7 linked regions of the Homo sapiens genome follow. The protein of the gene in region 1 purifies or fractionates together with the protein of each later gene. This does not show direct contact. Each region holds a gene or a part of one and is shown in the gene's direction. Other genes may lie near its edges.

What was found.
Region 2: the proteins of THOP1 (region 1) and GIGYF2 purify together in Homo sapiens (affinity purification with mass spectrometry, with the first as the bait; one large-scale study listed by BioGRID). This does not show direct contact.
Region 3: the proteins of THOP1 (region 1) and UNG fractionate together in Homo sapiens (co-fractionation; one large-scale study listed by BioGRID). This does not show direct contact.
Region 4: the proteins of THOP1 (region 1) and EXOSC7 purify together in Homo sapiens (affinity purification with mass spectrometry, with the first as the bait; one large-scale study listed by BioGRID). This does not show direct contact.
Region 5: the proteins of THOP1 (region 1) and TTC39C fractionate together in Homo sapiens (co-fractionation; one large-scale study listed by BioGRID). This does not show direct contact.
Region 6: the proteins of THOP1 (region 1) and PITRM1 fractionate together in Homo sapiens (co-fractionation; one large-scale study listed by BioGRID). This does not show direct contact.
Region 7: the proteins of THOP1 (region 1) and IDH1 fractionate together in Homo sapiens (co-fractionation; one large-scale study listed by BioGRID). This does not show direct contact.

What each region holds. Positions count from the first base shown.
Region 1 is NC_000019.10:2,809,071-2,813,396, forward strand, and holds part of THOP1 (thimet oligopeptidase), read left to right. Parts: intron 1-1,233; coding exon 1,234-1,420; intron 1,421-1,569; coding exon 1,570-1,698; intron 1,699-2,527; coding exon 2,528-2,664; intron 2,665-4,044; coding exon 4,045-4,206; 3' UTR 4,207-4,326. UniProt on the Homo sapiens protein: Involved in the metabolism of neuropeptides under 20 amino acid residues long. Involved in cytoplasmic peptide degradation. Able to degrade the amyloid-beta precursor protein and generate amyloidogenic fragments.
Region 2 is NC_000002.12:232,783,823-232,788,246, forward strand, and holds part of GIGYF2 (GRB10-interacting GYF protein 2), read left to right. Parts: intron 1-3,327; coding exon 3,328-3,507; intron 3,508-4,424. UniProt on the Homo sapiens protein: Key component of the 4EHP-GYF2 complex, a multiprotein complex that acts as a repressor of translation initiation. In the 4EHP-GYF2 complex, acts as a factor that bridges EIF4E2 to ZFP36/TTP, linking translation repression with mRNA decay.
Region 3 is NC_000012.12:109,107,517-109,111,493, forward strand, and holds the end of UNG (uracil-DNA glycosylase), read left to right. Parts: intron 1-2,312; coding exon 2,313-2,453; 3' UTR 2,454-3,476; downstream 3,477-3,977. UniProt on the Homo sapiens protein: Uracil-DNA glycosylase that hydrolyzes the N-glycosidic bond between uracil and deoxyribose in single- and double-stranded DNA (ssDNA and dsDNA) to release a free uracil residue and form an abasic (apurinic/apyrimidinic; AP) site.
Region 4 is NC_000003.12:44,982,604-44,987,027, forward strand, and holds part of EXOSC7 (exosome complex component RRP42), read left to right. Parts: intron 1-4,424. UniProt on the Homo sapiens protein: Non-catalytic component of the RNA exosome complex which has 3'->5' exoribonuclease activity and participates in a multitude of cellular RNA processing and degradation events.
Region 5 is NC_000018.10:24,083,699-24,088,122, forward strand, and holds part of TTC39C (tetratricopeptide repeat protein 39C), read left to right. Parts: intron 1-4,318; coding exon of another isoform or gene 4,319-4,324; exon of another isoform or gene 4,325-4,424.
Region 6 is NC_000010.11:3,165,740-3,170,163, reverse strand, and holds part of PITRM1 (presequence protease, mitochondrial isoform 2 precursor), read left to right. Parts: coding exon 1-60; intron 61-3,121; coding exon 3,122-3,228; intron 3,229-3,783; coding exon 3,784-3,935; intron 3,936-4,424. UniProt on the Homo sapiens protein: Metalloendopeptidase of the mitochondrial matrix that functions in peptide cleavage and degradation rather than in protein processing. Has an ATP-independent activity. Specifically cleaves peptides in the range of 5 to 65 residues.
Region 7 is NC_000002.12:208,248,006-208,252,429, reverse strand, and holds part of IDH1 (isocitrate dehydrogenase [NADP] cytoplasmic), read left to right. Parts: intron 1-862; 5' UTR 863-878; coding exon 879-1,000; intron 1,001-3,769; coding exon 3,770-4,061; intron 4,062-4,424. UniProt on the Homo sapiens protein: Catalyzes the NADP(+)-dependent oxidative decarboxylation of isocitrate (D-threo-isocitrate) to 2-ketoglutarate (2-oxoglutarate), which is required by other enzymes such as the phytanoyl-CoA dioxygenase.

The sequences.
Region 1 (4,326 bases):
GCTCTGTCCTATGAAGTCACTGAGAACCCTGAGAAGTGCATGCAGACCTGTCCCTCCAAGGGGACCCTGGTCACGTGTTCGCCAACTGATCATTCCAGAACCTTACTGTGTGTGTTTTGGGTTCAAGACACCTTACTGCTGTACAGCGCTGACGGGTTCACGTTGAACACATGGCTGGTGGCTCTGTCACCCACACCTGAGCACAGCTTGCACACACAGGGTGTCCCCATGAGGCACATCATGGCCTCCTGGTGCTGAAGGAGACGAGACAGTGCTCTGCACAACGCTTGGGGCCTTTTAAACACAAAATCACCAAGAGCAGAAAGATGCAAACACCGTGCCCCCACTAGACTGAGAAAAGGACGCTTGCTCATAAAATGAGCCGAAGTGAGAAGACAGAGTGCGGCCCTTCTGAGGACCGTCTGCTCAGGGGCGCCGCAGTGCTGGCCTCTGGGGTTTTTGTGGATCTTAGTAGGCGAGTTTGAAAACACGGAGTCCAGGAATGAGGATCGACCGTGTGTCCACCTTTCCTGGCTTCCCTGCCACACTGTTTGCACAGCACTCGTAGCCAGCACACGCGTGTGCACATCCACACAGGTGCTCACACAGGTGCCCACGCACGTGCCTGCAGGCCTGCTTTGCATGCTGCTTTCTGCGTGTCCCTGGCGCCTGGCACGGCGAGTCCCTTGGTGCATTCCGTCGGGACAAGGAGTGTGGCTGCGTGGTCCTTGGAACAGAAAAGCCTCGGTGTTGCAGAGAGGACCTTGAGGATCACCCAGGAGTTCCCTCGCCGTTGGCTGCCTGCCATGGTTCCAGCGGGACTCAGTCAAGGGCTGTGCTTTTAGGGAAGGTTCCACACACACACGAGCAGGGAGATGCAGCATGCCTCACAGCGTCCCCACCCGGACCTGGCCGTCCCCAGGTCCCAACCCCTCGGGGTGCGGAGCTTTCAGGGAGCAGCAGCTCTGTGGCTAGAGGAGAAGCGTGGGTGGCCTCCAGGGACGGGGTCATGTGGCCGGCATCTTCAGGTGTGTCCTGCTGCCACCGGCAGCCAGCAGCAGCCCAGGGGCCTCCGGGTCCCGGTCGTTTTCCAGTTTTGGGGTGGGAGGGCCGGGCCCAGCGCATCACCTGTGCACTCGCCCTGTTTGCACTGTGGCAGCTGACACGGGCCAGGCCGGCGGGAACGGGCTAGGCAGGACCTGGGCACTCTGAGGCTCTGCCCCATCCCTGCAGGCGGAGTTCGCCATGTTCAGCGGGACCCACGTGGAGCGGGACTTTGTGGAGGCGCCGTCGCAGATGCTGGAGAACTGGGTGTGGGAGCAGGAGCCGCTGCTGCGGATGTCGCGGCACTACCGCACAGGCAGCGCCGTGCCCCGGGAGCTCCTGGAGAAGCTCATTGAGTCCCGGCAGGCCAACACAGGTGCACCCGCCCCGTCCGGGGAAGGGTGCTAACCTCGGGGGGCGGCACACAGCTGGGGCCTGGCATGTGCCCCGGGTGGGGGTCGGAGCTCTGGGCAGAGTGGGCCGGGGCAGGTGCAGAGGCCAGCTCTCTCCTTCCCTCCCGCCCAGGCCTCTTCAACCTGCGCCAGATCGTCCTCGCCAAGGTGGACCAGGCCCTGCACACGCAGACGGACGCAGACCCCGCCGAGGAGTATGCGCGGCTCTGCCAGGAGATCCTCGGGGTCCCGGCCACGCCAGGTAGCCACCCTTGAGCCGGGCACACCCTGGAATTTGGAGCCTCAGCTGCTTCCCTGGGAAGGTGAAGGGAGTTGGTCCCCATGCTTCACTTAGCAAGTGCAGGAGTCCCTGCTGGGGAGCCACGGAGCGCGTCCCAGGCTCCTCGGGGGACAGCCCCAGCTGAGATGCAGCTGCAGGCCCAGGGTCGGGGACGGGTGTGCGGCCCCAGCCCCCAGGAGGAGTGTGTTCCCTGGAGCCTCTGCTTTGAATGAAGCTGGCGTTTTCCTGATTGAAATGTATGACACATGCTTTGTAAAAAGCCTGGAGAAGTACAGGAAGGCCTAGGAATTTCCGATCCTAATGATGAGAAGTGGGCCCTGTTTCCATGCTCACCTGTTGTCCTGTGTGCATGTGTGTTCACACACGCTTGCGAGGATCCAGAATTTGGAAATACAGCATGATTTTAACATGGGTGGTGTTTTGCTGGCTTAACACTCCATAGACTTCAAAAATCTTTCCAAAAGCGTTTTCAGCAGCGTGGCCTGTGATGTTGCGTGGGCGTGCCTTGCTTTATTGACGCAGTCTCAAAATGGGGACTTTGCTCTGTGGCAGCTGACAGCCCCGTTAAATGAGCTCCTGTCCTTCCAGGAGAGGGGGCGGAGACTTGTGGCCCTCGCTTTGTGGCTGACTCTGGTTCTAGAAGTATCCAGCTGGTCTCGGCCCTCACCGTGATCCTCCAGCTTCTCCCTGTTCCGGGCAGGGGTCTCAGGAGTCTGGCTGGTTGTCTTCTCCTGGAGGAGGAGCATGGGGTGGGGGCTACAGCGTGAACCCTGCCATGTGTCCGCCCCAGGAACCAACATGCCTGCAACCTTCGGCCATCTGGCAGGTGGCTACGACGCCCAGTACTACGGGTACCTGTGGAGCGAGGTGTATTCCATGGACATGTTCCACACGCGCTTCAAGCAGGAGGGTGTCCTGAACAGCAAGGTACGCGGGGACTGGGGACAGGGAGGGCGTCCTGAACGGCAAGGTACGCGGGGACTGGGGACAGGGAGGGCGTCCTGAATGGCAAGGTACGCGGGGACTGGGGACAGGGAGGGCGTCCTGAACGGCAAGGTACGCGGGGACTGGGGACAGGGAGGGCGTCCTCAACAGCAGGGTGGGGCCGAGAAAAGCACACCTTTGGCCTGGGCCTGGGTGTGCCGGGTGAGCCATCCCGGCCGAGGCACCTGCTGGTCTTGGTGCGGTGCTGCCCACAGCTCCTCCCTGGGCCCTGCAGGAAGCTCCACACTGGCCCCTCAGGCCTCGGGCTGTGAGTGCTGGGAGCTCCGTGTCTTCCCATACGAGTCCTTCCGGGATCTGCGTGATCGGCCTCAGAGCCATGGGCTGAGACAGACCCTTCTCTGGAGAAGGCTTGGCGTTTGCCATTCATTTGCTCCTCCAACCTCCAGTTTCCTCACTATGAAGTGCGGCCGTTACGCCATGTGAGCCTGTGCCTCCCGCTGACTTGGTGTGACCCAGGCTCGGGACAGCCGCCAGAGTCCCTCACAAGGAACAGGTGGCTACCAGCTTTGAGGGCCGGCCCTGCCCTGCCTGGGTGCAACATTGCACTGGGCAGCCTGCAGGTACCTCGGAGCCACCAAGCAGGCACTCAGCTGCTCCCTTTATAGAGGTGCAGAGGCCAGGACCTGGGGGAGCAATGGTCCGACAAGCCCCCTGTCTTCACAGCCCAGCAGGGACCTCCCCCCTCCTGAGGCAGCCTCCAGCAGCTCCCCCTGCTGCTGAGGTGAGGGGGTCCCACCTCTGAGGACCGGCCGGGGGCTGTAGAGGTGGAGTCCCCCGGGTGGGAGCTGGGACTGTGGCTCCCTGGCTCTGCAGCCTGCAGTCCGCGCAGGCTCCTGCGGGGCTCTGGGGCGTCGGGGTCTCCTTGGTGGCTGGCACCGGCGCCTCGCAGTCTCATCTGCCTCACCTGCCCGTAGTCCCGCAGTCACAGGGCTGGGCTCAAACCTGGGCCTTTAGGGCGGCCCAGAGCGCGAGCGGCTTCCACATTGTCCAGCCGGAGGCTCAGCCACTTCTGTTCATGGGCTCAGCCTGGGATTTCAGTGGGGGCTGATGGCGGGAGCCACCTCGGGAGTTTGGGGAGTTCGGGGCTCTGCTGGCCCCTCAGTGCACACCCCCGCTCTGAGATTCTGATGAAAGGCACCTGCGCTCTCCCACCTGTGCTGATGCAGGCGGCCCCCGGGCCTCCCTGGGAACCTGGAAGGGGTTGCTCCGAGGCCCCCCTGGGCGAGGGTGTGCAGACTCCTGGGGTCCTCTGCCTTCCTCCCTGGGTCCCCACCCGGCCACAGTGCCCTGTCTCCTCGGCAGGTTGGCATGGATTACAGAAGCTGCATCCTGAGACCCGGCGGTTCCGAGGATGCCAGCGCCATGCTGAGGCGCTTCCTGGGCCGTGACCCCAAGCAGGACGCCTTCCTCCTGAGCAAGGGGCTGCAGGTCGGGGGCTGCGAGCCCGAGCCGCAGGTCTGCTGAGGCCTGGCACTGCGACTGCCCAGTCTGGCCTGCGCTCCCGCCGCCCTGGTGCCTTAGCCCCCGGCACAGGATGGGGCAGGCTCTGGCACAGTGCCTGGGACTGGCAGGGTGGCTGAGCGG
Region 2 (4,424 bases), on another chromosome or scaffold:
TTGCAGGCATGCGCCACCATGCCCAGCTAATTTTTTTTGTATTTTAGTAGAGACGGGGTTTCTCCATGTTGGTTAGGCTGGTCTCGAACTTCTGACCTCAGGTGATCCGCCCGCCTCGGCCTCCCAAAGTGCAGGGATTACAGGCGTGAGCCACCACGCCCAGCCTCAGATCTAGTTTTTTACTTGTAGTATCAATAAAATTTACTTACGTACCAGTAACAATTACATACAAGGATCAAAAATTTAGCTCCCTGAAATTCAGCATCCCTGAAATTAAATGGATAGGATTTTCTCATAACATGATCACATTTTTAAAAAGCCTGTTTAGGGCAACAGTTGGAAATAAGTGATGAAGAAACTGAATAAATTATACAGAAGTGCCCTTCTACATAATTTACTAAGAGGTCAAGGCAGAAGGATCACTTGAGGCCAGAAGTTCAAGACCAACCTAAACAACATAGCAAGACCCCCATCTCTGCAAAAATTAAATAAAATGAAATTTTAAATTTAGCTGAGTGTGGTGGCATGTGCCTGAGGTTCTAGCTACTTACACGAAATAATTTCTTTTTTTTTTTTTTTTTTTTTGAGACGGAGTCTTGCTCTGTCACCCAGGCTGGAGAGCAGTGGCGTGATCTGGGCTCACTGCAAGCTCCACCTCCCAGGTTCATGCCATTCTCCTGCCTCAGCCTCCTGAGTAGCTTGGGACTACAGGCGCCCGCCACCGCGCCCGGCTAATTTTTTCTATTTTTAGTAGAGATGGGGTTTCATCGTGTTAGCTTGATCTGACCTCGTGATCTGCCCGCCTTAGCCTCCCAAAGTGCTGGGATTACAGGTGTGAGCCACCGCGCCTGGCCACAAAATAATTTATAAAAGCTGCAATATGGTTTTTGATATATCAGATATTACATAATAACTACAATAGATTTAGATTATGACTTCTCTGGTAAACCAAGTGATATAGTTTGGATGTTTGTCCCCTCCAGATCACATGTTGAAATGTGATCGCCAGTGTTGGAGGTGGGGCCTGGTGGGAGGTGTTTGGGTCATGAGGGTGGATCCCTCATCCCCTCCCCACTGTAATGAGTTCAAGAGTCTGGGATCTCTGTCATCTTTCTTGCTCCCTCTCTCACCATGTGACATACTTGCTCTCACTTCACCTTCCACAATGAGTAACAGCTTCCTGAGGTCTCACTGGAAGCCAGACAGATGCTGGTGCCATGCTTGTATAGTCTGCAGAACCACGAGCCAAATAAACAACTTCTTCTTCTTTTTTTTTTTTTAATAAATTACCCAGCCTCAGGTATTCCTTTATAGCCATGCAAAATGGACTAATAAACCAAGGAAAGCCAGAATATAGTTCTGACATTCCAGACACGTCCTGCAGGTAAGAGCAAGGTCATAGATAATAAAACCCTTGCTTGGTGGTTCAAAACAGCAAACATTTATTATCTCAGTTTCTGTGGGTTGGGAATCTAGAAGCAGCTTAGCCTAGCTGGGTGGTTCTGGCCCAGGGTTCTTGTAAGGCTGCACTCAAGGTGTCAGCCCATGCTGCAGTCTCTCAAAGCTCAACTGGGGTTTGATCCACTTCCAGACTCACTCATGTTTCTGGTGGTAAGTCTCAGTTCTTTGCCATGCAAGCTTCTCCACGAGGTCTGTGTCACTACATGGCAACTAGTGTCCTTCAGAGAAAGTGTCCAAGATGGAAACTACAGTCTTCTTTAATATTTTAAGTGGCATCTCATCACTTCAGCTGCATTCTGTTAGTCCAGCTTATAATTGGGGGTAGAGGATTCCACAGAGATCAGCAGTCAGGGATTGTTGGTGAGCTCTTAGAGGCTGTCCACCACAATAAGAAAGCAGCAGATCATGTCTTCCATTCTCCCAAGATATTTTATCTTTCAGTAGAATGATACCTAGTAGCAGACTAACAACCATATGGACAAGCAGGATGCTGAATCTCAATATATGTAAGATGGAATATAACAGAATGACCAGAAATTAGAATTTCATTTTCATATGCTGTTGTTCAATTATTTTTTCACTTTTAGTATGGATTAATTAAAAGGATTGAGTTTGTCATTATGAGAACTTGAACTTTTATTGTTATAAACTGAGGACATCAATGTATGTTATTCTGGATTTTCAACTATTTTGATGTGAGATTTTATAAATGTTATGAGTTATATATGTTAGCACATGTGGAATGGTGACTGAAGAATTTGTTTGCACAATTTAGAATGATCTTGTCCTTTTAAAATACCAGTTTAGTTTACTTGGTATACCAGGCTCTCTTTTGACATTAATGTAACTTTTGAGACATTAGGTTAGACATAGCTTAGCTTTAAATTCTGTCCAAAAGCAATTTATGGTATGCCTGTATTGTATTAGGTGCTAGAGTAAATGAGGTTATACTACTTTTCAATTTTTTTTTTTGAGACGGAGTCTTGCTCTGTCACCCAGGCTGGAGTACAGTGTCGCGATCTCTGCTTACCGCGACCTCCGCCTCCTGGGTTCAAGCCATTCTCCTGCCTCAGCCTCCTGAGTAGCTGGGATTACAGGCACTTGTCACCACACCCAGCTAATTTTTGTATTTTGAGTAGACATGAGGTTTCACCACATTGGCCAGGCTGGTCTCCCAACTCCTGACCTCGTGATCCACCTGTCTCGGCCTCCCAAAGTGCTGGGATTATAGGCGTGAGCCACCACGCGGCCTGCTTTTCAGTTTATAATCTGTTTTGGAATGAAAGACGGCCTGAAATGTACAGATATCATGTTTAGGCAGAATCACCAGTAGGTGTTGGTTATATAAAGTATGTTGTATGATGAAAAATATCTTATAACTTTAAAAAGTATGTGCTAGTAAGGAAGGATTGGCAAGATACACTGTTAGTGAAAACAGCAAACAAAACAACATTTATAACATCCTGAGGGTGGCGTTTGTGTGTGTGGATGAGGGAGCTATGTATACATGTGTAAGTGTACCCATGGACAGTGTTTGGAAAGACTTTATAAGAAACTTGGTGATGGTTCCTTCTGGGGAGTACGACTCTGAGGGTCTTGTGTAGGAAGATGGACTTTTCATTGTACGCTTTTTCAAAAAAAATTTTACATAATATTTTTGTTTAAAAAAATTGCCCAGTCTCTGAACATGGCTTTAAGAAATGTGTCTAATAATATATACATATACCCACTGTTATTTTAGTGATTTTTTTCTGAATATTGAAATGGACCCATTTGCAGGAAAGCTTGATTTGAGCTGTGAAGTTTGTTTTCAAAGCCTATACTGGCAGAGGCTCATGTTTACTTACCATATTATTTTCTTTATAGGGAGACCAAATTTTGAGGAAGGTGGACCAACATCAGTAGGGAGAAAGCATGAATTTATACGCTCAGAAAGTGAAAATTGGCGCATCTTTAGAGAGGAACAAAATGGAGAAGATGAAGATGGAGGTTGGCGACTAGCTGGATCAAGGAGGGATGGAGAGAGGTGGCGACCTCACAGTCCTGGTAAGAATTCTGTTGAGTAAAGGCACACAGGGACTGAAATAAGGGAAAGTTTGATGGAAATAGGGATTAAATGAAAAAGATAAACTGGCTTAAAAAATGTGGGGGTGGATTCATATTATTTATGCTGTCACAGTTTTATTACTAGAAAAAATTGCAACATAAAAATTTCCTACATCTATTCAGTTGATTGAAATCACTTTTCTATTTTTCTGGGGCAAATAGTGTAGTTTAATGGGAAGCACCTGCGCTCAACTGCAGAAATGAGGGTTTCATTCAGTTTTGTCTACCTCTAAATCTCTGAATCTTTTTTAGCATTCTTTAAGATTTATAAATGTGTAAAAATTACACACTTGAAATATGTGCTTCCCTCCCCAACAATGAGTGTTTTTCCTAACAAGAAAGGGTTTATTCTTTCATTTTTTCCCTTTTGAAAATGTGATTTAACCTTATTTGAAGAATAAGCTTTAAACCTAGGTCAGAAACATAATCACAAGTTCATTCTTATGTCCTTCTAACTTTAGAAGAAGGAGAGACAATAGTAGTGATTAGTGGCTTTTAAAGTTCTTCTGTTTGTCTCTTAAAAATGCTCAAACTGTTCTTCTTGGACATTAGATATGCTAGTAATTGAAGACACTAGTGCTTTGTGTTAAAGTTCATCCTGTACCACAGTGCTGATTCCATGCCTCATGATAATCAGATGCAACTGTAGTTCCAATTGTGGGGTCATGCAAAACTGAAGCACACAGAGTATATGTGGAATGCCCTATGAATTTCATGTGTATGACAGTATTTTATCAACCATGTGCCAGAGGGGCTTACCTTTAATACAGGAAATTATGATAAGTAAACTGTTTTCACTTTTAAAAATCAAGTTATTAGCAAAACCACTAGCTTAGATCTGGGTAGACATTATAACA
Region 3 (3,977 bases), on another chromosome or scaffold:
TCTTTTTTTTTTTTTTTTTTTTTTTTCTGAGACAGTTTCACTCTTGTTGCCCAGGCTGGAGTGCAATGGCGTGATCTCAGTTCACTGCAGCCTCCCCCTCCTGGGTTCAAGTGATTCTCCTGCCTCAGCCTCCTGAGTAGCTGGGATTACAGGCATGTACCACCACATCCAGCTAATTTTGTATTTTTAGTAGAGACGGAGTTTCTTCATGTTGGTCAGGCTGGTCTTGAACTCCTGACCTCAGGTGATCCACCTACCTCAGCCTCCCAAAGTGCTGGGATTACAGGTGTGAGCCACCACGCCCGGCCAACTATTCCATTTTTGTGGCGAGATTTTTTTGTTTTTGTTTTTGTTTTTTAATTCTTCCTTCTTAGGAGCTGTAAGACTATTCAGAGAGTTCAGAAAGGCACAAAATGGAAAGTAAATGGCTTCCACTCTTTCTCTTAAAGGAACTACTAAATACAGTGTCTTGGGTATTTTTCTAAAGTTTTTAAAAAATGAAATTATTTTGCATTTTGTTCACTTGGTAAATTTTGGAGGTCATCTCATCAGTATATTTATCTTTCGCATGTTTTTCTAGGAGTTATGTGGTTTTACATTGTAAGAACTTTAGAAAAATACATTTAGCCAGTTCTGTAACACTGAATTGTATACTAGGTTTTAGCTGACATAAGCAGTGTGTCAGTCCCTTTATATGTACCTATTTGTGTAGGTACAACTGGTCCCTGGCTTATGAAGTTTGACCTGATTTTTTTCGACTTTACAATGGTGTATAACCATACTTTGAGCACTCACACGTTGTTTTTTTTTCTTTCTTTAAGAGACAGGGTCTCTTGGCTGGGAGCAGTGGCTCACGCCTGTAATCCCAACACTTTGAGAGGCCAGGGTGGCGGATCACTTGAGCTCAGGGGTTTGAGAACAGCCTGGGCAACATAGTGAGACCTTGTCTCTAAAAAACACAAAAAATTAGCCTGGTGTAGTGGCACGCACCTGTGGTCCCAGGTACTCAGGAGGCTGAGGTGGGAGAGTAACTTGAGCCTAGGAGGTGGAGGCTACAGTGGGCCACAGTCATGCCACTACACTCTAGCCTGGGTGACAGAGTAAGACCCCATCTCAAAAAATAAAAAATTAAAAAAAAAGATCTTGCTCTGTCACCCAGGCTGGAGTGCAGTGGCACAATTATAGCTTTTTGCAGCCTCGAACTCCTGGGCTCAAGTGATCCTGCCACCTCAGTCTTCTGTGTAGCTAGGACTGCAGGTGCATGCCATCACACTTGGCTAACTTTTTAATTTTTTTGTAGAGATGGGGTCTCGCTATGTTGCCTCAGTTGGTTGTAAACTCTTGGTCCCATGCAGTTGTCCTACCTTGGCCTCCCAAAGCACTGGGATTACAGGTGTAAGCCACCGTGACTGGCCCCGTTCTATTTTTCACTTTCAGTACAGTGTTCAATGAGTTACATGAGGTACTAAACACTTCATTGTAAAAGAAGCTTTGTTTTGCCCAGCTGTAGGCTAATGTAGGTGTTCTGAGCATGTTTAAGGTAGGGTAGGTTAAGCTATGATGTTCAGCAGGTTATATGTCATAAATATATCTTCAACTTAGGATATTTTCTACTTAGGATGGGTTTTCCAAGATGTTAACCCCATCCATTGTGTTAATAAGTTGAGGAGTTTATCTGTGTGTGTATGCATCATGGTGTCCTTTAGCAAATACAGTCTTAGCAGTGGAAATTGCTGGCAGTATGATAGGGACACTTGAAAATTGCATAGATAATTGCCAACTTGAAGGCAGAGGGTGGTGCTCTTTGCATCTCAGAGCCTAGCAAAGGTAGGTAGTTGCTCAACAAACGGACTAATGTTCTAATGCAAATGCTGAATGCTCCACTTTGGAAGGGGGAGAATTTAGAGGGCAAAGGGGAATCGCACAGGGTCTTAAAGTGCAACAGCCACAGTCCTTCCTTTTTGGGGAAAAAAAAAAAAAGTCCCGGCCGGGCATGGTGGTTCACGCCTGTAATCCCAGCACTTTGGGGAGGCCAAGGCGAGCGGATCACGAGGTCAAGAGATCGAGACCATCCTGGCCAATATGATGAAACCCCATCTCTACTAAAAATACAAAAATTAGCTGGGTGTGGTGGCACGCGCCTGTAGTCCCAGCTACTTGGGAAGCTGAGGCAGGAGAATCGCTTGAACCCGGGAGGCGGAGGTTGCAGTGAGTCGAGATCACGCCACTGCAGCAAGACTCTGTCTCAAAAAAAAAAAAAAAAAATTTAAAAAGTCCCAAATCTGCCACCATTTATTCTTGATCTTTTTCAGAAGCGGCACCATGTACTACAGACGGCTCATCCCTCCCCTTTGTCAGTGTATAGAGGGTTCTTTGGATGTAGACACTTTTCAAAGACCAATGAGCTGCTGCAGAAGTCTGGCAAGAAGCCCATTGACTGGAAGGAGCTGTGATCATCAGCTGAGGGGTGGCCTTTGAGAAGCTGCTGTTAACGTATTTGCCAGTTACGAAGTTCCACTGAAAATTTTCCTATTAATTCTTAAGTACTCTGCATAAGGGGGAAAAGCTTCCAGAAAGCAGCCATGAACCAGGCTGTCCAGGAATGGCAGCTGTATCCAACCACAAACAACAAAGGCTACCCTTTGACCAAATGTCTTTCTCTGCAACATGGCTTCGGCCTAAAATATGCAGAAGACAGATGAGGTCAAATACTCAGTTGGCTCTCTTTATCTCCCTTGCCTTTATGGTGAAACAGGGGAGATGTGCACCTTTCAGGCACAGCCCTAGTTTGGCGCCTGCTGCTCCTTGGTTTTGCCTGGTTAGACTTTCAGTGACAGATGTTGGGGTGTTTTTGCTTAGAAAGGTCCCCTTGTCTCAGCCTTGCAGGGCAGGCATGCCAGTCTCTGCCAGTTCCACTGCCCCCTTGATCTTTGAAGGAGTCCTCAGGCCCCTCGCAGCATAAGGATGTTTTGCAACTTTCCAGAATCTGGCCCAGAAATTAGGGCTCAATTTCCTGATTGTAGTAGAGGTTAAGATTGCTGTGAGCTTTATCAGATAAGAGACCGAGAGAAGTAAGCTGGGTCTTGTTATTCCTTGGGTGTTGGTGGAATAAGCAGTGGAATTTGAACAAGGAAGAGGAGAAAAGGGAATTTTGTCTTTATGGGGTGGGGTGATTTTCTCCTAGGGTTATGTCCAGTTGGGGTTTTTAAGGCAGCACAGACTGCCAAGTACTGTTTTTTTTAACCGACTGAAATCACTTTGGGATATTTTTTCCTGCAACACTGGAAAGTTTTAGTTTTTTAAGAAGTACTCATGCAGATATATATATATATATTTTTCCCAGTCCTTTTTTTAAGAGACGGTCTTTATTGGGTCTGCACCTCCATCCTTGATCTTGTTAGCAATGCTGTTTTTGCTGTTAGTCGGGTTAGAGTTGGCTCTACGCGAGGTTTGTTAATAAAAGTTTGTTAAAAGTTTGTTTTGTGCAAGTGTCCTTTGTGCGTCCAGGCCAGGGCATCCATGGACGTCCTTGGGCTGCCCTTTCCCTTGGCGCCTCCCAGGGTTCCCATAGCAACCACCGTCTGCAGGAGGGGCCGCCCTTGCCCCTCCTCCCCGCCCTGCCGCTCAGTGGAACGGCCCAACCCTCCCCTGGCTGCGGTGAGCGCTGGGCCCAACCCCCGGCCTGGAGCAGCGCCCCAACTCCGAGCACCGTGGAGCACCGGCTGCCAGCTGAGACCCCAGAGGGGTAACTAACGGCCTGAGGAAGGCATTTCTTCGGGGAACATGGCGTGCCCGTCGTGGCTACGTTCTGCCAAGCCCTGTGACGTTGGAGGGGAGCCGCCTGCATCCCCCGCTCAGCCAGTGTTTCTAGACTCCGAGACATCTGGAACTCGGAAGTGAGGCCAGGGCTCCAGGAAGACTCCCTGATGACGCACTGGCCCGCAGCCCAGGCTCAGGTAGTGGGGGCTGTCAGGATG
Region 4 (4,424 bases), on another chromosome or scaffold:
ATTGTTTAGGGGTATAGCATGGAAGAGGGAGATCAGGGCCTCAGCCTGGTTTTCAACTATGAGATTGAGCAGTCAGTATTCGGTTGCTCAGTCTGGCCATGACAGAATTGGAGCCAGCCCTCAGGACTCTTGATTTTTAGCTCTCTGCCCTTTCTGTTTACAGACCCATGGCACAGAAAGCCTTATGCCCAGACACTGCAGGATGCAGAGTTATGGAGCCATATCCTTTCAGAGGAATGCCTGGCTACTCAACAGGGTTGGAAAGTCAAACAAGGATCAACACCTACTTTTGCCTGCTGTGTGATGGGCCCGAGCCTGCAAAGCTGGACCAAATGTGGCCCCTTTCCTAAGGGCGGGGGGCAGTCACCTTCTAGTAGGGGAAGGAATTTAGTCTCACTTCTCCTTTAGGAATCTGGAGTATTAGACAAGTCAAAGCAAGTTAATGAGGGGTTAACATAACCTCAGAGGACCACTTTGAGTCTAAAGTCCTTCCAGATGTGTCAGATTGGTAGCGCCAACTTGTCAGTTTCTATTAAGAAGTAATAGGACTGGGCTTCCTGGGTGTGAGGGAAAGTAGGTCTGTGCTTAAATGTCCTTCCACTCTGTCACAAACAGGAGATTGAAACTTAGGTGCCTCCATTCTTATCTGTAACCTCTCTCAGGGTTGTTTTTGAGGATGCAGTGAGTTAATGCATGCCCCCAGAAGCAGGGGAAGGGAACTGCTTTGGGGGGACTCCTATGTGTTACACTGAAGGACTCCTTTAAATGCTTTATGACGTTTCTGTTCTCTTGTAACTCTGTAAGGTCGGGGTTATCCCTGCTTTCTAGATGAAGAAACAGGCTTAGAGCTATTTAGGTCAAGGTCACAAAACTGGCATGTGACAACAGAGATTTAAGTATAATTTGGAAGGTGGCTGTTTCCACCACACCACACCCTACTGGTAGGGTTGTTGTGATCACATGGGTAACAGCTGTGAAAGTCACCAAGAGCTTTCCTGGCATCCAGAAGCCCTTGATCTAGAGGCACATCAGTCTCCTCTGCTGAGAAGGAGGGGACACCACTCCATGCTGTTGACATCTCTTGAGTTTTAAAATGGAGCTTTTACTTCAGGGTAACTCCTATTTAAGTGTTCACACATGGATTAATTCCTTTGCTCGTGACTGCTGCAGATAAATAAAAACTGTGGTAGGGCACCAGGCCCTGAGCTAGGCCAGGCAGGTTTGGACAATTTCCTAAGCCTTTTATAAGGAAAACTGGGTTTAAAAAAAAAAGTTGCCCTGGGTACAGTGATTCATGGACTGGTTAGGTTGGTTTTTTTGGTTTGTTTTCCTCCTATCCTTTTTTTATATGGAAAAAAATTATGCATGCTTGGAAAGGAAAATTTGTAGCTTTTCATTTATCTTTTACTTATCACCTGAGCCTTTCTCCAGGAGGCAGAGAGTGAATTAAAGGCTGGAAAAGCAGTATCTGATGAGGCTCAGTTTTCTGACAGCCCACCAGCCCCTTCCTGGACCAAGTACATTTTCACTACAAAGAGGTGTGACTAATCTTTCAGAGCAAGTGATATTTTAGAAGCAGTAGTTGGACCAGATGTGGTGGCGCATGCCTGTAATCCCAGCACTTTGGGAGGCTAAGGCAGGAGGGTCACTTGAGGCCAGGAGTTTGAGACCAACTTGGGCAACATAGCAAGACCCCATCTCTACAAAAAGTAAAAAATAAAAATTAGCTGGGCATGTTGACATGTGCCTGTAGTCCTAGCTACTCAGGAGGCTGAGGTAGAAGGATTGCTTGAGCCTAGGAGTTTGAGGCTGCAGTGATCACCACTGCACTACAGCCTGGGTGACAGAGTGAGATCCTGTCTCAAAAAAAAAAAAAAAGGAAGAAGCAGCAGTAGTAAACCCTGTGACCTTGTGGCCAGCCAGTTCATCCTGTGAAGGAGGTCTCTGCTGAGTCCTTTTGTAAAGTGAAGACATCCTTTAGAATGCAGTGGACTGTGTAGCATAGCGGTTAAGAGCTCTGACTTGAGGCTTAAGTGCTACTTACTGGCTGTCTGAACTTGGGCCATTCATTTGACATCTTTTAACCTCAGTTTTCTCATTTGTAAAATGGAATGAATAACACTATCGTATAGGATTATTGAAAAGATTAAATGCATTAACTGCAGTATTCCTTGCACATTATCTGGTATATAGTAAATGCACAGTAAATAGCAGCTGCTATTATTTATTGCAAATAATTACAGCCATTTTAATTTATAGATCTGTAGAATTAGAGAATCACTTTGAGACTAATTTAATCTCCATCTTTTACAAATGAGGAAACTAATCCAGAGAGGGAAGGGGCTTGTCCTAAGTCAAGTGGCTAGTTAGTGCCAGGAGCTGGCCTGGAACCATGAGTCATGTTCCTAATGATTGTTCATACTTACACCATATTTACACCCCACAAAGAACTTCTTGTCAATAACCTTTCTGGGCTGGGTATTCACTTTCCTAGCTGGGGAGTGGGGCACATGGAGGTGGAGAGGGCTGGAGTGTTAGAGATTGAGCTAGAAAGCCTTCAGGTTCTATGGGTGAGGTTGGGAAGAGACACAGTTACATAGTTATGGGTCTTCCAGTGAAGAGGGATCACCTTCTGGAGTTCTATCCTAAAGGCTTACTCTCTTAGACTTGAAATTCTGTTGCTTTTTGAATCCATCTCCAGACTCAAGATAGGGATATTGTGTCTGGAATTGGTGGGTTCTTGGTCTCACTGATTTCAAGAATGAAGCTGCAGACCCTCGCGGTGAGTGTTACAGTTCTTAAAGGCGGCGTGTCCGGAGTTGTTCCTTCTGATGTTCAGATGTGCTCGGAGTTTCTTCCTTCTGGTGGGTTCGTGGTCTCGCTGGCTCAGGAGTGAAGCTGCAGACCTTCATGGTGAGTGTTACAGCTCTTAAGGCGGCACACCTGGAGTTGTTCATTCCTCCCGAGGTGGGTTCGTGGTCTCGCTGGCTTCAGGAGTGAAGCTGCAGACCTTCGCGGTGAGTGTTACAGCTCATAAAGGCAGTGTGGACCCAAAGAGTGAGCAGTAGCAAGATTTATTGCAAAGAGCGAAAGAACAAAGCTTCCACAGTGTGGAAGGGGACCCAAGCGGGTTGCCACTGCTGGCTCTGGCAGCTTGCTTTTATTCTCTTATCTGGCCCCACCCACATTCTGCTGATTGGTCCATTTTACAGAGAGCCGAGTGGTCTGTTAGACAGGGTGCTGATTGGTGCGTTTACAATCCCTGAGCTAGACACAAAGGTTCTCCACCTCCCCAGTAGATTAGCTAGATACAGAGTGTAGACACAAAGGTTCTCCAAGTCCCCACCAGAGTAGCTAGATACAGAGTGCTGATTGGTGTATTTACAATCTCTTAGCTAGACATAGAGGTTCTCCAAGTCCCCATCAGACTCAGGAGCCCGGCTGGCTTCAACCAGTGGATCCTGCACTGGGGCCGCAGGTGGAGCTGCCTGCCAGTCCCCTGCCATGCACCCGCATTCCTCAGCCCTTGGGTGGTCGATGGGACTGGGCGCCGTGGAGCAGGGGGCAGCGCTCCTTGGGGAGGTTGGGGCCACACAGGAGCACCCATGGGTGGGGGTGGGAGGGCGGGGAGGCTCCCGCATGGCAGGCTGCAGATCCGGAGCCCTGCCCCGTGGGAAGGCAGCTAAGGCCCAGCAAGAAATTGAGCACAGCAGCTGCTGGCCCAGGTGCTAAGCCCCTCACTGCCTGGGGCCAGCTGGCTGCTCCAGAGTATGGGGCCCGCCTAGCCCACACCCACCCGCTGAGCCCATGCCCACCCAGAACTCGCGCTGGCCCGCAAGCACTGCCCGCAGCCCTGGTTCCCACCCACGCCTCTCCCTCCACACCTCCCAGCAAGCTGAGGGAGCCGGCTCCCACCTTGGCCAGCCCAGAAAGGGGCTCCCGCAGTGCAGCGGCGGGCTGAAGGGCTCCTCAAGTGCTGCCAAAGTGGGAGCCCAGGCAGAGGAGGTGCCGAGAGCAAGCGAGGGCTGTGAGGGCTGCCAGCACGCTGTCACCTCTCAATATCTTCCAGGGAGGAAAGGTGCTGGGGGAAGGATGGGCTGCACAGGACCTTCCACCTGATTTGTGATGTTTATTTTCTGTCATTGAAAAGTTAAACGGGTGAAAGACCTGAAGCAAGTATGGCAGAGGGTGATCATTGGTACTGTGTGGTGCTGCAGTGTTTTGCTTTTTTCTGTTTAATTTCTCAAAAAAGTCAGTCACATATGCAGTTAGCCAGGCAGTTTAAAGATAAACTGTCAGTCACATACTTTAGAGCAGTGTTTTATTTTATTTTTTATGTTTCTGGGAAGCATCAACTCCTTGGAGAATCTGATTAAGCTAATGATTCTTTTTCTGAAAAAAACTGCTTTTGAAAAATGTTTACA
Region 5 (4,424 bases), on another chromosome or scaffold:
TGAGTGAGCCTGGGTTGTCTCACTCCAGAACCAGAAATGCGCTGGCCTTTGGAGTCTACTTCTCCTTTGCATATCTTTTTATCTGCTTGTTTGAGGTTATGAGGATTTGTAGAAAAATGAAACTATAAGAAATTAATCATACCTATGAAATAAGATAGCTGTTATAGTAGCTGCTCCATCTACATTGTTACCAAGAGTTATCAGGGAATCAGTTTGAGATTTTAACAACATCTGTCCTCCAGTTAACCAGGCACTCTGAGAAATCAGCCCCCATGAGTCCTTTTGAAGATTTTTGCCTAGAAATGCTTTCATGGGCACAGGAATAATTTGTTTTTTTGGGGGTGGGGATGCAGGCAGTGGAGTGTATATTACTTTCCCAGTCATTTTTCTCCTTCATAAAGTGACTCCTTAAATCTGAAGACCATGCAGAGCAGTTTTCTAAGTGCTTTGTATATGGAAGATGTGTTTTAGAGATTATACTAGCAGTTGAAAATTGAGATATAAGCTGGGCATGGTGGCTCATGCCTGCAGTCCCAGCACTTTGGGAGGCTGAGGCAGGTGTATCACCTGAGGTCAGGAGTTCGAGACCAGCCTGGCCAACATGGTGAAACCCTGTTTCCACGAAAAATACAATAAACTAGCTGGGCATGGTGGTACGTGCCTGTAATCCCAGCTACTTGGGAGGCTGAGACACGAGAATCGCTTGAACCTGGGAGGCAGAGGTTGTAGTGAGCCGAGATTGCGCCACTGCACTCCAGCCTGGGTGACAGAGTGAGACTCCATCTCAAAAATAAATATATAAAATAAAATTGAGATATAGTTCAGAAAGCCCACCAAGATCTGAATTATTTAAACCTGTGTCCAAATTGTTTTTGTTCTCATTATCTTGCAATTGTTTTTCTTTGCATACAGGCTCGTGAGCCCTTGGTTGTGTTTCTCCCTTTTTTCTCTCACTGTTTTTTTTCTTTTCCTTTTTGAGACGGGTCTCACCCTGTTGCCCAGGCTGGCATGCAGTGACACAGTCATAGCTCACTGCAGCCTCAGCCTCAACCTTCCAGGCTCAAGCGATCCTCCGACCTCAGCCTCCAAAGTAGCTGGGACTACTGCTGTGCGACACCATGCCTGGCTAATTTTTGAATTTTTATTTTTAGAGATGGGGTCTCCCTATTTTGGCCAGTCTGGTCTCAAACTCCTGGGCTCAAGAGATCCTCCAGCCTCGGCCTCCCAAAGTGCTGAGATTACAGGTGTGAGCCACTGTGCCTGGCCTCAGGATGAGTGCTTTCTTAGATTTAGATTTCTTCAAGGGCAGATTTAGATTTCTTCAAGTTCTGAGTAGCTTTGAACACGATGCTACAGGGTTTAGTGTTTAACAGAGATTTGCTGGGTTTAGTGTTTAACAGATATTTATTACAAGGGGAAAGTAAATTCATGGTGACAGGTTACTGTTTCTAATTGGTGCATTGACGAATAAAGTGTAGAATTGAGAGATTTACCTCGGTCATCTCTTCAGCGATCCATCTAGAAGCCTAAAGTTTAAAATTGTGTGCAGCAGGGCAGTGAGGCCCCTTAGCTTTGGACATTTGTTAGAATTCTCTCTCTTTATTCTGCTGATGAATGAATGCTCTAAATTGGGTTTTGAAGTTGTTAAACAGAAATGTGAAAATCAGAATTTATATTTTGTTATACTTGCCATTTGAGTAATTTTTCATTTTAAAACAAAATTGCTTAACTTTTGGTTAAGCTAATAAGTTTTTTTCCCAAAAATCTTACTTTGACATGGTTTTAGTTTGTGCCACGACTAATTCCTATAGAGGATTGAGTGAATACTAAACATAAGCAGTCATTCCTTGTTGTCAAGATGGTTCTAGAAATAAGGAAGCCACAGCTTCATCAAAGGATTCCTGTAAATATGGTTTTTGGAGGTACATAGTCCACATTATAGCTCTTAGTAGATATGTAGTCTATTTGGGGGTAGATAATTGTGATCAGAGTGCAGAGGGTAGGTGCTAGAACTCCTTCACAGTTAAGCGGCACTTAACACAGTTAAGTTTTAAGAAAAAACACACAAGATCTGTGACTACGGTTATTTAGTGAGCTGTAGCTTTAGGGCCAGACAAAATATGATGAGTGTTTCTGTTTGGCTCTTCCCAAAGGCCCAGAGGATGAAAAGATTTTAAGGCTAACTTGAAATATGGTTGTTATTATCCCCAAGGTGCCCAGACAGCAGCGTTTCATTGCTCTTCCCAGGTATGTGTAGGACGGTATCAGAAATGACCATGTCATCCTTCATTTGCAGATGAGGAACTCTGCCCAGGGAGGCTGTGATATAGCCCTTGCCAAAGGCTGTTTGTAAGGCCTTGAAGGCCCTGACTCAGTTTATGAAACTTACATGACTCCTTCCAATGAATTTGCTTACAAAGAATTTTTTTTCTTTTCAGTGAACATTTAGGTTAGAAATAGGGCCCCTTGAGCTCTTTTTATCAACACGTACTCACAGAACATGGTCTAGGGGCTTTAATTTAGGGCAGGTGCATTATATGACACCATCTTTGTTTCTTCAGTGACTCAGAATCTGTGAAATTATTTGAACAGCTGCTTTTGTGTAAGCTTGCTAACATGCAGGGTGACTGTCTCAATCTGTGCCCGTCAGTGTTCATTCTTCTGTACTCGTTATTTTCAAATCCTGTTGAGTGCCCACTTTTTCTTTTAGTTTTGTTAACTTTTTACGTACTTTGCCTTTCGTTGTTTGGGACTCTGTAGAGTGAATATAGGAGGATTTCTTCCACAGATCTGCTCCTGTCGTGCCACTTGCATAAACCTCATTGTGGTGACTTGGCTGTTTTCTGTTATGGCCTCAGTTGATGTTGCAGTGAGTGCTACACCATGATGGTGAGGTCCGTTTGCACCCCAGCTGGTGAGCACAGGATCCTCTTTGCCAAACTGCAGAAAGAATTCCCTTGTCTCGCTGCCTCCGCTTCTCCCCACTGCGTGTCTATAGTACTGTGCCTCGAACCTTCTCTGCCCACTTGTGTTGTCCTTACAGCTGATCCTATTTTCCTTGACTCCTCCCATGTGACTTACTACATTGCTGGGGGGAATGAATGTGTGAATACAGTACCTAGCATGTGGCAAACGCTGTCTAAGTAAGGGTGTGATGGTGTTTATTATTCCTACTGAGTGCTTAAGCATGGGAAGTCAGGTATCACATTTTCGTGTTTTGTTTTTTTTTTTCTTTTGGGGAAAAAGAACTTGTTTGGTGTTGAGAGCTGTCAATAAAGCAAGGCCTGTGATTGGCAAAATTGGTTATGGGTGTAGCTATAGGAGATGTATGTACTATACAGCTGTTTACTTATCCCTGAATTTCCACAATGCAAACAATGTTTGGGAGGCTGACCAATGGGTTATATAGGAATCTCAATTTTCAAATGTGAATTGGTAGTTATAATTTTGAATTTCTGTATTTTCCATTAATGTTCACTTAATTTTCATTCAGTTAGACCTATGGTAGTGTTATGTCCATTAAGATACAAGCAATTAATGAGTATTTTTCTTGATTATTTTTACAATATTAGGGACAAGTCTATATTTTCATAAACTGTTTTCAGTTGTCTCTGCTCTTTCTTCTTTAAGCAATACAGATTTACACAACTTTTTTCTCTTTCAGCTTTAACAATCTGCTTTGTATGTGACATGTAAGGATTTGGTTTTCTGTAAATACATACTTTCACACACATACCTTATATGGTGTGACTAGTAATGTAACTAATTTTTAATATTATTTACCTCTAAAAAAGTGTTCAGATATTCAAATAAATGAAAGTCGTTTTCTATAAAGTTAATGAACATATTCTAACAAAGTTCCTATGCAAGCATTTTGAGAACTGTTTTTTTTTTGTTTTTTTTTGAGACAGAGTCTTGCTCTGTCACCCAGGCTGGAGTACAGTGGTGCAATCTTGGCTCACTGCAACCTCCGCCTCCCGGGTTCAAGTGATTCTCCTGTCTCAGCCTCCCGAGTAGCTGGGATTACAGGTGTGCACCACCATGCCTGGCTGATTTTTGTATTATTAGTAGAGATGGGGTTTCACCATGTTGGCTAGGCTGGTCTCAAGCTCCTGACCTTTATTTTGAAACAGTCTCCTGAGCTTGAGCCCATACGTTGTGAATATCCTGCATGCTGACATTTTAAAGCCTTAGGTTTGGTTTTTGGAAATCGAAATCTGGGCCTAGCACAGGACTGGCCCTCAATGTATGTTGGCTGAATGAATAGATGAAGCTACTGGTAGAAAAATCTATTGCTGTATGTCATTTCTTTTTTCAGAAATGATGTTGGTTATCAAGGACTATTTACTTTTCTTGTGGCACCTAAATGTGTTTCTGAAGTCAGTTCCAAAGAAGAAGTTGTAAAAATGTCTTGATAATTGAAA
Region 6 (4,424 bases), on another chromosome or scaffold:
TGTGAGAGGGCTCTGCAGTATAAACTAGGAGACAAGATCCATGGATTCACCGTAAACCAGGTATGGGTCGTCCTCGGCACCTCCTTATAAATCCACATACATTGCAGGTGCGGCTTCTGGCCTATGTACGGAGCCCTTCAGGGCGGAGACTAGCGTTTTTGTCCTTGTGTCCCAAGGCCCTGGCCCAGCTCCTGCTGTGTGGCAGCTACTCGGCTGAACAGAGCTTGTGAGTGAAATGAGCCCCAGTCCCTTCCTGGAATCCCGCAAAGCCTGGTTCTTGTGAGATTTTAGAGAGTAACACTTCCAGCTGGGTCTCTGTAATCAGACACACTAGCGTTTCTGCAGCCAAACCTGATGTTTCACTGAGCATGAGCATGAAGACTCACTGCCCTGATCTGTTTAGTCAGGTTTTGCCATCAAATAGCTTGCTCTAAACGTCCGCAGAACCTTTCAGTTTTCTGAGCCATTCGGGTTTCAGAATGATAAAGAAGCAATTGTGGACCTGTACTTACTTGGGTCTGTATTAAAATAGATTCATTTGGTTTTTGTTTTGTTATTTTGCCTAAACCTTTTGCATTGTTTCTATTTAGCATGGTAACTGAAAATGACACGCTTCATGTATTTGGCCAGCTGTTGGCTTTGTGCTATGCTTGATGTTATAGCAAACGTGAAAGACAAACAGCTTACTGTCTAGAAAGACTGCTGCGGCTGTGACCGGAGGCACATGGTGGACGCCACGCGGAGGGCCAAGGACAAGGGCAGGAGGAGGAGTGGGAGCTGCTGCTGCTGGGGGCAGAGGGAAGAGCTCCTGGAGAGGGTGGTGTGAGAACGTGGCTGCCTTCGGTCAGGGCTCCAGCAAGGGAGCCAGGGCAGTGACTAGGGTGCGCCAGACAAGGTCCAGGCATGGGACTCATGAAAAGACTTGGAGCGTTTGTGAAATCCTGCAAAGGCCAGGCAAAGACACTTGGGTTTATGGTACAGGTTACTGTTAATAAGGGCCTCACCCACAGCGGTAGATTCTCCTCCTTTATTTCTCAAATTTTATAGAAACGTATTTACTTTTGAGACTGGGACTCACCCTGTCGCCCAGGCTGGAGTGTGGTGGTATGATCTTGGCTCACTGCAGCCTCGAACTCCTGGGCTCAAGCGATCCTCTTGCCAAGTAGCTGGGACAAGGTGCCACCACGCCTGGCTAATTGTGTGTGTGTGTGTGTGTGTGTGTGTGTGTGTGTGTGTGTGTGTGTGTGTAGATGGAAACTTTGTTGCCTAGACTGGTCTCAAACTCCTGGGTTCAAGCAATCCTTTTGCTTGTGTATTAGTCTAGTCTCACACTGCTATGAAGAAATACCCAAGACTGGGTAATTTATAAAGTATGAGCTAAAAAGTGAAGAGGTTTAATTGACTCACAGTTCTGCATGGCTGGGGAGGCCTCAGGAAACACAATCGTGGTGGAAGGCATCTCTTCACAGGGCGGCAGGGGAGAGAATGAGGATCAAGTGAAGGGGGAAGCCCCTTATAAAACCGTCAGCTCTCATGAGAACGTGCTCACTGTCACGAGAATAACATGGAGGAAACCGCCCTCTTGATTCAATTACCTCCCACCAGGTCCCTCCCACAACATGTGGGGATTATGGAAACTACAATTCAAGATGAGATTTGGGTGGGGACACAGCCAAACCATATCACCTTGGCCTTCCAAAGTGCTGGGATTATAGGTGTGAGCCACTGTGTCCAGCCATAGAAACTTACGATAAGTCATGATTCTTGTTTGAGAAATAGCTACCATGAAAGCTATTATTATTAAAGCTATATATTATTAGAAAGCAAACATCTCACTGTATCTGCTGACTTCAAAAGCATTGATCATCTGTTACAAAGTACAGTGAGCTTGGAAACAGAAGTAATTTCGCGGCGGTAGATGATGCAGGTCATAGTGGTCTGCTTTATGCATGACTGTTGCGTGGCAGGCTCCCTAGATTGGGCTGAGGAGACCCGAGGTCTGACCTTGGCCAGCGACTTACTGTGTGCGCTTGGCCAGGTGACTCATGGCACCTGGCAGGAGGGGGTGGTGAGTGGTGTGGTGATCACAGGGACGTGGTGTGTGATTGAGGGAGAGGGCCGGCTGGCATGACTGGAAGAGAAGACAGTTTCTTTCATACCGAGGAGTATGGTCACTTACCAGGAGGCTTACCTAAAGTAGGAGATGACCTTCCACGCCGCCCCAGGAGTGGGGAGTCTTTCGTCTGTCTTGTGGGCATTTCTATCCTCCCGGCCCCTCCAGCTGTTCTGGAAGCCACAGCTTTGTGCTTCTAGCTACCACCGAGAACCCATCCTAAACTAAGAGAAGCAAAGGCTGATCCTAGAGCCTCTCCCTGCTGTCGCAGGCTAGCCCACTCTAGCATTTCCCCTCCTTGCAGGCCCGTTCTGCGCACTACAGGAGATGATATGCACAGAAACAGACACACAGCCAACGTTGGAAGGGGTGCTGTGTTACTGAGGCGCAGCACACAAAAGCAGGAGACACTCAGCAGACATTGGAAGGGGCGCTGTGTTACTGAGGCACAGCACACAAAAGCAGGAGACACTCAGCAGACATTGGAAAGGGCGCTCTGTTACTTAGGTGCAGCATGGTACCATGGGAAGGGCAGACACCAGGGTGAATCCTGGCTCTGTGATTTAGGCAGCTTATTTCATCACCCTGAGCCTCGGTTTTTTCGTCTGTAAATGAGTATGAGAATACCTCCCTCACAGGATTATATGTGACATGATTAGAAAATGCCTAGCCAAAAAAAGAATAAAAAATTTAAAAAATAAAAAAATCTAAAATACCTAGCCAGTAGTAAGCGCGTGCGCTCTCGCGCTCGCTCGCTCGCTCGCTCTCTCTCTCTTTCTATACACACACACACATATTCTCATCTGCCTTTTTTAGGTCTGTCTTTCCTTGTTTGTAGGATAAGGGACCTGGACAAGATGGTTCTCTTCTCTCCAGCTCTGAAATACTGCCTTCCCGGCATCATCTAATTTCAGGCAGAAAAGCCAGTTTTCTCAGTGTGTCGAACATAACCATTTCAAAGGCCATTTTGTCTAAGTTTAACTGGTCGTGTTTTTCTTGTTAACTCAGGTGACATCTGTTCCCGAGCTGTTCCTGACTGCAGTGAAGCTCACCCATGATGACACAGGAGCCAGGTATTTACACCTGGCCAGAGAAGACACGAATAATCTGTTCAGGTGTGTGGTGCATTGTAAGAACATGGTCTTGAATGTTTTTATTTAAATCAGGAATGTCCATTCTTTTGGCTTCCCTGTGCCACAATGGAAGAAGAACAACTGTCTTAGGCCACGCATAAAATACACTAACACTAAGGACAGCTGATGAGCTAAAAATAATAAATAAAGGACCCCTCAATGTTTTAAGAAAGTGTATGAATTTGTGTTGGGCTGCATTTCAAGCCATCCTGAGCATGCGGGCTGCAGGCTGCGGGTTGGACAAGCTTGATTTAAAACATGGCTATACATTACGTGGTTTAAAATATCATCTCACTAGTATTTTTATTGACAGAGCATCTTGAAAAATAAGGAAAAGTTTACACTGACTTATAATCTCATCAAAATACAATTTTACAGTCTGAGTCAATGATTTACATTATAGTTGGAAAACCCTGTGCTGGAGGATTGTGGTGTCAGAATGATGATTTCTAGTAGCCTGAGGTGATGATGCATCTGGGAACTGTGTCCGCAGCACTAAGCTGAACCTTTTGCGTTCTGGTCATTCTCCTTCCCTAGCGTGCAGTTCCGTACTACTCCCATGGACAGTACTGGTGTTCCTCACATTCTTGAGCATACCGTCCTTTGTGGGTCTCAGAAATATCCGTGCAGAGACCCTTTCTTCAAAATGTTGAACCGGTCCCTCTCCACGTTCATGAACGCCTTCACAGGTAAGACCAGCATCCTGAACAGAAACTGCTTTTGGGTTTGCCAGGCACACCCACTGGAATTCAGTTAGTTTCTGAGAAGGAATGAGGGGAGTGGGCAATTCATGTTCTAGAAAAATTTTTACCTCTCTCTAGTTGAAGGACATTAGAAATTTAATCCTTCAGGAAAGCCACATGGTAGCGAGATTGTAAAAACTAGCGTTTTAAGAAAACATATGTGAACTTTTCCCAGAAAAGTTCAAAACAATTTTCTCTTGGAGATATCGCTACAATGCCAGAGTTACTACTAATGTTGATGTTTGACTTTTAGTAAGACTGACGATAGTGGATAGGGTGACGATGAACAGTGCATTCTGTGGGGGAGTGACATTGAAGAGCGGGTTAAATCCATGCTGTTACAGAATGAGGTCATCTTTGTAGATGTATGAAAGTCTCTGGAGAAACTTGAGAGAGTTTAGATATTCGCTGAAGAAAGCCCTGGTGCCCGTCGAG
Region 7 (4,424 bases), on another chromosome or scaffold:
TGCTACCCCCACACCCTATCCTTAAAGTGCTGTCTTCCTAGGACAATGCACAGTTTGTCCTATCCCACTCACTAGCAGCTTACCCTTGCCTGTGAACAGCCAGAAGAAGATGACAGGGACATGCTTGGGTCCTGGGCAGTGGCCCTACTGTATAGAGATTCTTCTAATTGAGAAATCACTTTGTTGTATTTAGCCCCACATCTCCAATGTCTGTGTTATCTCTAGGAAAACAGTTCCACCAGGAATTCTTCGTCTCGCTTTTAGACTTAAAGTTTCCCTGAATATGGGTCACAGGAACCAGCTGAATCTCCTCATGGCTAGTTATTTTTATTAAATAACAAAAACAGCCTCTTAAAGGAGGAGAAATGCTAGCACTCACCATTCTGGACATCTTGAGAGCCCAGTAAAATGATGAGTTGGACTGAAGTGTTCAATAAACATGAGATTGTGGAAATAATCTCATTTCTTAAGACAAACCAGTAGTTGAGAATAATGATTGCATTATGAAGGGCACGTTATAGGGTCAGGCTCTGCCACGCTCTAGCTAGGTGGCCTTGGGAAAGCTCTTTTTTTTTTAACAAAGTAAAATGGGGAAATGATGGCCATTTTTTTGGATTGTTATGAGGGCTAGCTCAGAAACCGCGTGTGAAACATAACACAATACTTTGTTCAGAGAAGATACTCAATTCTAATGGTAAATAGAATTGCTGTTACTAGCTTTTTATTCAACTACACATAAATTGAATTGCATGAATTGTTCTTTTAGTAGTCACTACGTTGTTTATATAAACACTACGTTGTTTATATATTTCACTTTATAATGAAATAAATGACAAGGCATGTATTTTTTTTTTCTTTTTAGGTTTATTGAAGTCAAAATGTCCAAAAAAATCAGTGGCGGTTCTGTGGTAGAGATGCAAGGAGATGAAATGACACGAATCATTTGGGAATTGATTAAAGAGAAACTCATTTTTCCCTACGTGGAATTGGATCTACATAGGTAAATGAGTTACCCCTCCGTGTAGCAAACTCAGAAAGGATAATCTGGCTGGGCATGGTGGTGCACACGTGAAGTCCCAGCTACTTAGGAGGCAGAGGCAGGAGGATCCCTCAAGACCAGGAATTCAAGTCCAGCCTGGGCAACAGAGTGAGACCCCATCACTTTAAAAAAAAAAGGAAAAAAAAGGGAAGGAGAAACAGGAAAAAAAAAAAGAATATAATCTGAATTATTTTGAGGTGAAGTTAGCTTTTTTTATATAGATATAGCTGTGTTTTGTGAATAAAGTTTGTTTTAAGCCTAAATATATTCAGATGAATCTTCTAATTTTAACATACTGCTAGAAAAACTGGATTTATCATCTAAAAGTCAAGAATTATAAGGGAAAGAATGATTTTCAGATTCTTCTAACCTTCTGTTTCCTGTGAAGGTTTTATTTGTAATAAAACAGTGGCTAAGAATAGTACAATGTATTGAGAAAAGGGAAATAAGAGAGGATGTAAGAAACAGTAAACTAAATGCAGTTAACACAATTTTGTCATTTCAAACTCAATTTTCTATCACTTTACTTAGTCAATGGACCTGTTTCCTTTTCATGCCTCACCTTTTGCCCTTTTCATACAATTGTAGTGCAGAAAGAATTCATGATGTTTCTTAGTTGAACCCCTCCTTTCCAGCAAAATTCCCTTAAATCCTGTGTCCCTTTGCCCTGTGTGTAAAGTGCCTGGGGACAGATGCAAAAGTCTATGTAATTCTCTCATTTTTTTCGCTGTGTTTTTCATAAACTTGCTTCTGTTCTTTGTACCTTTAGGTAGAGATAGAATTTTTAAAAGGGTAAAGTGGCTGAAGACTGGCATAGAAAAATATTGAGCAACACGTTTCAGCCAAACTATTGGCAACTCTAAGTGTGTTTGCCTCAGCCCAGAATTAGTCATCAAAATTTGTCCTAAGGACCTGTTTGAGTGGAGACATTTAATTCACATAATGTCATTAAACATACTTTTTAATTGTTCTAAACCTAAGCTGCTGATGTCTATATTGAAATCATGATAAGATATAAATACTTGCAGAAGTCAACCAAACATAAGAAATTAGGCATAAAAACATCTTCCAACTAGGTTAAAAAAAAAAAGCATCTTAGGAACTCCTGTTTCAGGACTTTACATGACAGTAGGTGAACTGGCAGGGTTCTTTTCCTTATAATGGCTGCAACTAAAGATGCTTTGAGCCTCTTTAGTGTGGAATCATGAGGAGTTTTAAAGGGGAGTCACTATGACTAGGAGGAAAAAATTTGGTGGCTGCAGACTAGATAATTTTTGGAGGCTCAAACAAGTTTTAAATTTTTCCAAAATTCCTATTATTATCACTGACTGGTTCTTTTTCAGGAGAATGGAGCAGGTAGTTTGTTTTATGTAGGCTGGACAGTGGTCTGGGCAATTTGTTCCTTCCTTTCTTATCTTCTTAGAAATGTTAAGAAGACAAGCAAAAAATCTAATAATTTGCTGATAGATTCTCCTTATGAGAAATGGTTCCTAGGAACTTGAAAACTACTGATCATACTTCCTGTTGGAGTTGGGATTGGATCAACATTTCCTATGCAAGAAGATAACAAAGGACATGACTTTGTTAGATTTATATGAATTATCTAAAGTCGAAGCAGTTGGAAGTTATTTTTATTTGGAAATATGTCAAGATTACTATCTCTTTGTTTGCATCATGAGTTGGGTAGGAGATCTAAGAAAGGAAGATAAGGGAACCAAAAAGAAATCTAGAGGCAGGTTTTAAGAGCTGAAAAACCTTTTAAATCCTTGGAGAACAGAATAAACAAAACATTATTTTGTTTTCTTGCTTTTTAACAAACTATTGCATGCTTCAAATAAAGCTTTGCAGTCATTTTCTATGCTCCCTGGACAACTAACATTCTTTCAGCTCTGAATGACCTGCAATCTTTGTGTTGGTGTATATTAAGCTATTACTCTCTGGTATGTAGAAAACCATTGATGGATTCCTTTACTTACCCAATAAATTGTAGGCTTGTTTCCAGAGCAAACACTTGCTCAAGAATTACAGAAGGAATTAGCTGGGCATGGTGGTGCATGCCTGTAGTCCCCGCTACTGGGGAGGCTGAGGCGGGGGAATCACTTGAACCCAGGAAGGCAGAGGTTGAGTGAGCCAAGATCGTGCCACTGCACTCCAGCCTGGGCAACAAAACGAGACTCATCTAAAAAAAAAAAAAAAAGGGAAAGGCTCATTTTATGACTAACTGGCATTAATGAAGTAGTCATTCGCATTTTTGGCATCAACTGTCACATCTTTACCTCCCACCACTTCAACGTCAAAATACAAAAAATCCTTTAACCCCTCCCACCCCCTTTTATTTTTAAAGAGCAATATTTACTAAGGGAAAAAGGTGGTCCTTAGACTTACACTTATTATACTAATTATATGGAGAGAAACCAGGCCATTATTGCCTCTATCTGGTGAAAAACAGGAGGCAAAGGGCAGAGTTTGATGGTTTCCATTCATTTTCCTGATAGACAGCTTCCCATTACAAGAGGAGGGGCAGCCCAGCAGTCTAGCCTCTCTTAGTTCTCTTTGTAGTTGGCACCCATCTTCTGTGTTTAGGGTGTGCCAGTGCTAAAACTTGGCAGATTTTGGTGTACTCAGAGCCTTCGCTTTCTGCATAATGAGCTCTATATGCCATCACTGCAGTTGTAGGTTATAACTATCCATTTGTCTGAAAAACTTTGCTTCTAATTTTTCTCTTTCAAGCTATGATTTAGGCATAGAGAATCGTGATGCCACCAACGACCAAGTCACCAAGGATGCTGCAGAAGCTATAAAGAAGCATAATGTTGGCGTCAAATGTGCCACTATCACTCCTGATGAGAAGAGGGTTGAGGAGTTCAAGTTGAAACAAATGTGGAAATCACCAAATGGCACCATACGAAATATTCTGGGTGGCACGGTCTTCAGAGAAGCCATTATCTGCAAAAATATCCCCCGGCTTGTGAGTGGATGGGTAAAACCTATCATCATAGGTCGTCATGCTTATGGGGATCAAGTAAGTCATGTTGGCAATAATGTGATTTTGCATGTTTTTTTTTTCATGGCCCAGAAATTTCCAACTTGTATGTGTTTTATTCTTATCTTTTGGTATCTACACCCATTAAGCAAGGTATGAAATTGAGAAATGCATATATGTATAACTGTATATTTACACACATTTAGCTAAAGGCAAATACAAATAAACTTACAAATAGGCGTCCATCTCAACACATTTTTTTTCAAACATGCTGTTTTTTTTCCTTTATCCTTTTATTCAGTTATACCATATGATATTGCCATTTTTATGTTGGTAATTTCATATGGTTCAACCAGATCTGTGGTTTTCAACACTGGCTGCACAATAGGATCCCCTTACAAG